Regions from separate parts of the Homo sapiens genome. Here regions 1 and 2 are each linked to region 3. The links come from fine-mapping of genetic effects on gene expression. A gene starts in region 3. Each other region holds a variant in brackets. All regions are shown on one strand. Distances are between the middles of the regions.

Evidence for each region.
Region 1: its variant is fine-mapped to the expression of GOT1 in monocytes (Quach 2016, PIP 0.95).
Region 2: its variant is fine-mapped to the expression of GOT1 in monocytes after LPS (Fairfax 2014, PIP 0.95).

Annotation. Positions count from the first base shown.
Region 1 is chr10:99,404,232-99,406,910 of GRCh38, forward strand. GOT1 (glutamic-oxaloacetic transaminase 1) reads right to left here. Exons shown (of 9, transcript NM_002079.3): 3 at 2,495-2,618; 4 at 1,906-2,018; 5 at 1,525-1,629. Among named protein-coding and RNA genes, the nearest start is that of GOT1, 25 kb to the right of the region's middle. The variant GAC/G (reference allele first, on the strand shown) is at 1,289.
Region 2 is chr10:99,397,698-99,400,376 of GRCh38, forward strand. All of the region lies in intron 8 of GOT1 (glutamic-oxaloacetic transaminase 1), which reads right to left. Among named protein-coding and RNA genes, the nearest start is that of GOT1, 32 kb to the right of the region's middle. The variant C/T (reference allele first, on the strand shown) is at 1,615.
Region 3 is chr10:99,429,426-99,432,104 of GRCh38, forward strand. GOT1 (glutamic-oxaloacetic transaminase 1) reads right to left here and starts at 1,199. Exons shown (of 9, transcript NM_002079.3): 1 at 1,023-1,199. The coding sequence starts at 1,140. It overlaps GOT1-DT (GOT1 divergent transcript), which reads left to right and starts at 1,511. Exons shown (of 5, transcript NR_183993.1): 1 at 1,511-1,840. RefSeq lists enhancers at 1,040-1,099, 1,120-1,169, 1,350-1,779.

The sequences.
Region 1 (2,679 bases), 25 kb before region 3:
TCCTCATGGGCTATTCTGCTAGGTACTCAAGAGGAAGGGAACAGAGTAGCCTCCATTCCTGTCACTCATCTCCTCAAAGAGCTCTCCACAGGGAACCTGCTTCTACAGCTGTGCTCTCTGAGTGGACACCACTTCCCTCCCCGGAACTGTCCAAATCTTTGGTTGTACTTTGATTCCCATCTCTTAGGTTTATCTTGACTAGGTGGGACTGGGGGGAATCTGGACTCCTAACTCTGCAGCTCATCCCCCACATCCTGGCACTCCCCAAGTCTCATCAGTCCTGTCTCTTCAGAGCTCCCAAATCCTTTTGCATCTCACTGTCCCCACTGCTACCTACTTCATCCAGGTCACCATCAACTCCTACCTGGGCTATGGCAATGGTCTCCTAACTGCTCCCACGGCCTGTCTAGTCTTGCCTCTCTCTGACCCATTCCCTGCTATGACATCAGGGTGGCCTTAAGACCATGCACATCCAATCATGTCACTCCCCGACATCCAAGATTTCAGTGGCTCCGCACTGCCCTGAGAATAAAGTCCAAGCCTCAGCACAGACCCTGCCCCTATTCACTCTAGCCTCATCACTCACACTCCCCATGATGTCTGCCTGGGGCTTCTGACCATGCTCCGTCCTCTGCAGAGCACATCCCTTCCCTGTCAACCCCTGTCTGCTGATGCCTTCTTAGCTCCTCCCCATCCTACAGGACTCAACATAGAAACCACTGCTTCCAGGAAGGTTCCTGCCACCAACCCGCCAACTCCCACATATACACTGCCCAAAGTCTGGGCTATGTACCCCCCTATAACACTGTCAACACAGCTATCTCACAGCATCACAGCTGCCTTAGTACTCGTCCATCTCCCCAAACAGGCTGTCTGTCTTTGAGGGTAGGGACTGCATCTGCTCCATTCAATAGTGTATTCCCACAGTGTCCAATACACAGCAGTTCCTTAATAAGTATTCTACAAACTCGTTAAGGAAGAATATACACACTTTCAGCTAGGAATTCCCACCTAGAAAGTTACGCCAAAGAAATAATAAAAGGAAATTTTGTTACATAATTTTTCATCAGATCAAGCAATCTGAAGTAAACCTAAATATTCATCAGATGATTTACCCCATCCCTAATATGACATATCCATGAAAGAAATATAATATAGCTATGAAAAATGATGCTGCAAAATATTCAATGACATGTATATAAAGAAGTGAAAATGAAAAACAAATTGTGTTGCACAAAACAGTACAGACAAAATGATCTCATCTTTGTAAAACATATACATAAAACTA[GAC/G]ACACACACACACACACACACACACACACACACACACAGTCTGACATTCTATCTACCAAAACATTAACAGTATCTTTCTTTAGGTAATAAAATTTACAGTTAATACTTATTTTCTTCTTTGGACTTTTCTCCATTTTCCTAATTCCTCAGCAAACAGCAAACAGGTATTGCTTCTACATACATTAAATAAGAATATATACTATTTTTTAAGAGATGCTCTGAAGGGGCAGTTACCTTCATGACAGAAGCAATCTGCTTCCACTGCTCCGGAGTTGGGTCAATCCCAGTTGGGTTGTGTGCACAGGCGTGGAGGACAACAATGGAGAACTCAGGAGCATTCTGAGGAGAAGGAAGCTATGTCAGCTCTGACACTGATGGGAATATTGGGAGACAGAGTCAGCAGCAGATTGGTCAGTGATGGAGGGCAAAGGGCAACCATATTCTTGTCACTCTTTCATGTCTCTTTTGTGCCCTCTCTCTTACATGCTATGTCAGAAACCACCATCAGGTATGGGGAAGGTGTCTCAGACTCCTTCACTTAGCAACTGGTCCAAAGACTTTGCCTGAGATTCCTGACACCATGCAATTCTCTACTTTTTCCTCTAAATCACCCACCTCCAGATCATTCAGGAAGCCCTGGAGGTCCAATCCTCTCTTCTCTGCATCCCAGTAGCGATAGGACCGAATGTCTTTAAAACCAGCAGCGGAAAACACAGCATTGTGATTCTCTGCATGCAAAGAAGTAAAAAGTTAAGCACTTTACAAACACTAGGAGGCATGAGTGGAAAGGATGCAAGTCAGCTTCCAGGGCCCTCCCAGGCTCAATGTCCACTGGGCATCATCCAGGCTGGGGGTTAAGATGTAGAGGAATGATTGTAACCAAGAACAAGTTCAACCAGTCACATTAATGCCAGACTTATATTCTACTACAATGATACTTCCTGCATCTACATTCTATGCCTCCTCTGGGGAGTTTCAACATAGCCTTGGTAGATACAAGTCTACTAAGAGTCTTGAGAAAGAGTATTCTTAACTTGATTTTGAGCAGCAGGTTTCTCATGCACTGCCATAACCCACTGTTCAAGCCATTCCCAACAGTCAGTTGTTCTAGGGCTGGATTACATTTTCTGTGTAACCAGGGAGAGTCATGAGGATAATTCTCTCTGGTTTCTGTTTTTCCTCTCACTTCAGCTGAAAGACTCACCCCAGGTTGGTGAGGACACATAGACAGGTGTGTTCTTGTTGTTTGTTCCATTGTACCAACGCGCTAAGAAATCAGCTCCAATTCGAAGTGCACCTGTTCCCCCCAAAGATTGCACACCTCCTACCTGAAAGAGAAGAAACAGGGTCACAGGCTGATAATGGTGAGGTCAGATAATATTTACAAAA
Region 2 (2,679 bases), 32 kb before region 3:
CAAAAGAAGACATAATCAGAGCAGAGGGGATCCTTAAAGCAGTGGAGGCTCAGCAATTATATGACAATTACAGCTTTACTTCTTTCCCCTTAACAGAGAGAAGCAAAACAAAAGGCGCTATTTTGTCCAACTGACAAACAGAAAAATATGCTCACTAGATTCTGGAAAGTACTCTTACTAGTTCACCTTTGAATCCCCAGAAAATTCAATATGGCTACTACTGATGGGAATTTTAATCTGAGATTGCCTTCCAACCAAGCCTTATACATTATATCCACCAGGACACCCCTATCACCTAAAAACAACCATCAGACGGACAGCGATATGAAATGCTGGCTATGAAGTGCTTCCTTTAGTTCTTCCCTAACCTGGACTTGCATTGAGTACCCGCGGCAGCCTCCCTTTGACATTTCATTTTTACAATACATTGGGTAAGGCCCCATGCATGAGGTACCTGATCAATCCTGTGTGAATTAACCAATGAGCTGAGAAATGACACAGACCTCTCTGACCTGGCACCATCAGACTTCTGTTCATTTCTCAGCTTTCTCTCAGATGCAGTAGTTTTTCCATGTTTTCAGAAATGCATCACATGTGGGTAAGAAGAGACTACCTGTACTTCCTTTATACAGCAGTCTCTAAAGCAGTTTTGCTATTTGGCAAATCCATTGATAGAATTTTAGTGAATTTGGCTGGGCACAGTGGTTCACGCCTGTGATCCCAGCACTTCAGGAGGCTGAGGCTGGTGGATTACCTGAGGTCAGAAGTTTGAGACCAGCCTGGCCAACATGCTGAGACCCAGTCTCTACTAAAAATACAAAAATTAGCCAGGCGTGGTGGCATGTGCCTATGGTCCCAGCTACTCAGGAGGCTGAGGCAGGAGAATTGCTTGAAACCCAAGAGGAGGAAGTTGCAGTGAGCCGAGATCACACCACTGCACTCCAGCCTGGGTGACAGAGTGAGACTCTGTCTCAAAAAAAAAAAGAATTTTAGTGAATTATTGCTTAAGTAATTAGTACCTTTAAGATACCACCAACCTGAGGAAATGGAATAATAATAGAATCATCATAATCAGAGGAGTAAACACTATGTGCCAGGCAGTGTTCTAAGCACTGCATCTTAGTTCATCCTGATAATAACTTTATCATGCCCATTTTACAGATAGGCCATAAAGACATTAAATGGCCTTCCGAGATTGCACAGCTGGTCAATGGTGGATGTGGGATTTTCAGGCAGGATTTCAAGTCTGGGCTGTACACTGCCCCCGTGATGCTACAGTGCCTCTCTAAGGAAGTGAAAAATCTGGACCCTGGACTCAGTGCTCCTTGAAGGAAACCAAAATAGTTCACCCCAAAATATACTTTGACATATTTTGAGATGGCTGTTGAGAGGGCCTACATACAGAAGTAGCCCTGCAAAGCTGTCTTTTGTGGGAGAGATCTGTATCTGTAGAGAAAATCTGCATGGCTGCAGCTAGGCTTTCTCTGAGGCCCTCCCTTGTCCAGATCTAGGGGAGATTAACTGAGAGTGTGATGCCTTTAAAGGTCTAAAAGAAATAGACCTTTACCGCTATTTTCTCCGAGGGCTGCTACCTGTCTTATCTACATAATATAA[C/T]AAGACCACCTTTGCTAACCAGGCCTTCTCTTCTCTGCCTGCCATAATCTGTTCTGGCAAGCTCCAAGCTCCCATTCTTTCTATAACCCCAAGATGGTATAAAAGCATCAATCATCTGGCCATTTATTTGAGTTCTATTTTGTAAGACACCTGTGCAAGTTAATAAATTTGCATGCTGGCCAGGCACAGTGGCTCATGCCTGTAATCCAAGTACTTTGGGAGGCTGAGGAGGGAGGATTGCTTGAGCCCAGGAGTTGACGACCAGCCTGGGCATCATAAGGAGACCCTGTCTCTACAAAAAAATCTTAAAAATTAGCCGGGCATGGTGGCACACACCTGTGGTCCCAGGTACTACGAAGGCTGAGGTGGGTGGATTGCTTGGGCCTGGGAGGTTGAGGCTACAGTAAGCCATGATTGTGACGCCGCACTCCAGCCTGGGCAACAGAGTGAGACTCTGACTCAAAAATAAATAAATAAATTTGTATGCCTTTTCTCCTATTAATCTGCCTCTTGTCAGCTGATTTCCAGCAAACTTTCAGAGGGCAAAGGGTAAGTTTTCCCTTGACCCCTCCAAACCAGTGAACAAAGAAAGCAAGCTTAAGAAGAGGTTTACCTGTGTGAATTGGTCACCCAAGGGGATAGAGCCTCAAGCCAACACAGCCCTGGGTGTGCCACTCTTTCTAAAAGCCTGTGCCCTGAGGCAGTGATTAAATGACTCCTACCCTGGCTTTTGGTTTTGTTTTAGTAAAAATGAGGCCTTTCTACTTTTTCAGAGAAGGGAAGTGTCACAGTTTGAAAAGCTAGTAAAAGTTATGGACTCTTTCCCTAGAGCAGGGCCAAAATACACATATACAATTTTTTAAACATCATTTCAGGGGCTTCACAGTTCTCCTAAACGTACATCCAGGGATTCCAGGTTAAAAGCCCCATTCTGACAGAAAAAAGATAACAAAGGAAGTATTGTAATGTGAGAATTGTAGAAACTAGGTGGCGGATATATAGGGGTTCACTGTACAATTCCTCCAACTTTTCTGTATGTTTAAAACTTTTCTGGCCAGGTGCAGT
Region 3 (2,679 bases):
TCATGTCACACTCTGCTACAAAATGATTCCACCTTCTCTTTCCACAATTTCTAGTCCTTTTATTCTAAGTCTATTACCTAGCATAAGACTTTATCCTACCCATTTTCATCTCTCTGGCTGGTCTTTGCACGTGGCAAAATCCAAATGGAGAAAATAAGTGTCTGTGGGGCTTCAAACATCCAAATGATAGTGAGAAGAATAACAAATTCATCAGAGAGGGTTAGGGGTAAAAAATTTGAGAGGCACTCCAATATAAATCTTCTTGGCAGATGGGGAAACTGAGGCCCATGCTCTGAGCTGTCCAAGGTACAGAAGAGAATCACTTGAATCAAGAAATGAAGATAGGATGTGTGGAAAGTAAGCTTCTACCATCCATACTTCTCTCCACTCCTTTCCACCATCTCTACCCATTCCTACCACATCTGTGACGGCCAGAACCATCTCCCCAGACCCCCCGGGGGCAGCATTAACCTGTCTCAAAGCATTGTGTAACACCAGCAGATTTTTAAATCCTTAAGGGCAAAATCAAGCCTCAGTCTCCCCCTACAAAGCTTAATAAGGTGGCTGATTGATACTCGGTGGTCACTCAAATATTTACCGACTCAGAACAGAGCTTTCTAGCGTTAAAAGTTCTCCTTTACCCATTTCCTAGCAACCAGAACCCTAAGCCTATCAGGCTTCCTATTTTTCTACCTCTCTCTACAAGCTCCGGCAGCCTCATTTCTTAGGAGGATGCAGTATAAAGAAGGCAGAATGGGGAATCGGAAAGACTGAGTTTGTGTCTTGGCTGCTACACCTGGTTTGTGCGGCCTCGGACACATCGCCCCTTTCCAGGGACTCCACACCTGCATCTGTAAAATGGGCAGGTTTTAGGAAGCCTTCGTGGATCCAGCCTCCTCTCCGGCGCCGCCCTCTTCAGGCAGCGCCACACTGGGCCTCGGCTTCTCCCACAGTCTCCACGACCTGGGTTGGGTCCGCTCCACTCCCCGAGCTGCTCACACTCCAGAGCACTACATCCTTACCTCCCACTCCCAGGTTGACCTTGCGGGGGTCCGGATCCTCCCTGAAGTCGGCAGTGAGCTTGAAGACCAGGACAGGCTGGGCCTGCGGAACCTCGGCAAAGACTGACGGAGGTGCCATATCGAGAGACTAGGAATCAAGAGATTTCACCCCACGCCCGGAGCTGGCAGGTCAGGTCTGGCCGTTGCGACTGGAGGAGACACTCACCTTCACCTAGCCGGCGGGGGCGGGCCCGCGGCCTCCAATGGTCGAGCCGCGTCCAAAGCTTGGCAACGCGATTAACCAATCGCCAGCTTCTGACGACGAAGGCACAGGGGAGAAGGAACGCTATTAGCCAATCCAAGAAAACAATTTATCGGCTGCCGAGAATGATGCAACCAATGCAATTTCCTCCGGCTGAGGCGTGGGCGAAGACTACGGTTGATTGGTAGAGCGTGCTCCTATCGCAGAGGCTGTTATTCCTTGGGTCTCCCGGCTGAGGGGAGGAGCCGAGCGAGCGGCGGGTGTCCCTGAGAGGCCACCTTTCGACCTTCGAGGGCCAGGAGGATACGGGGAGGTGGCCGGAGGGAGTTCCCGAACACAGGTCTTCCTGTTCCCGCCGAGCAGGTGTTGGCGGTGCCAGGCCCGGCCTGGCGGGCCCGGGCTGGCAGCCAAATACCCAGCGTCTGTGCTCGGGACGGGAGTGTTCGTCCAGGACGTGCAGCTCCGGAGCCTGCGCGGGCGACCTTGACCACCTTTGTCGGCTGTTTCCCCCTGAGGGAAGTATACCTGTCCTGCCAGCCTTGGTCTCTGGCAGGGAAGGTCCTTCCAACAGAGAGGGGTGCGCACGAATTCCTTTTTGCCGCTCTTCTATTAATAGTTTGAGATTTTCCTCCCCGATTCCTTGCAGAGAGGGCCTGGTCCTCAAGGACCTCGGGATCTGGGCGCGACGTCCCTTCCCAGCTTCCTCCCGCGCGCACCGGACCAGATCTTGCTGTCGTCAGCTGGCTGGTACCCAAAGTTCCTCTTCGTCAGGCTGTTCCTTCCCCGTTAGAGTCCTTCCTCCCCAGGAGCCCTCTCCATCTGCTGACCTTCAAGACCCAGAGCGAATGCCACTTCATCCATGAAGCCTTCCCTTAACCCTTATCTGGCCAAAATGTCTCTTTCCTGTGCTTCTGTACTTTCACAATTTTAGAAAATGCCTTTGTGGTTAAAAACCTATCTCCGGGACCGGACTATCTAGGTTTAGATTCTGGCTGCCGCTTACGAATTTGGGCAGGTTTAGTCAAGTTATTTTAACCTCTCTGTGGAAGTTCCTGCTCTGTGGAAATAATAGTATTTTCCTCAGAGTTGGTGTGGGGAGTTTGTGAGTTAATACATTTACGAAGTGGTTAGTTGCATGTAAGAAGGACTCTCTAAATGTCAGCTATTATTAACATTGCATATCTGCCACACCCTTCATAGATGGTAAACTGCTTTTTTTTTTTTTTTTACTTTTATTTTAGGTTCGGGATACATGCACAGGTTTGTTTTATAGATAAATTGCTTGTCATGTGGGTTTGTTGTACAAATTATTTTGTCACCCAGATAGTAAGCATAGTACTTGACAGGTATTTTTTCTGATCCTCTCCCTCCTCCCACCCTCTAGCCTCAAGTAGGTCCCAGTGTCTGTTGTTCTCT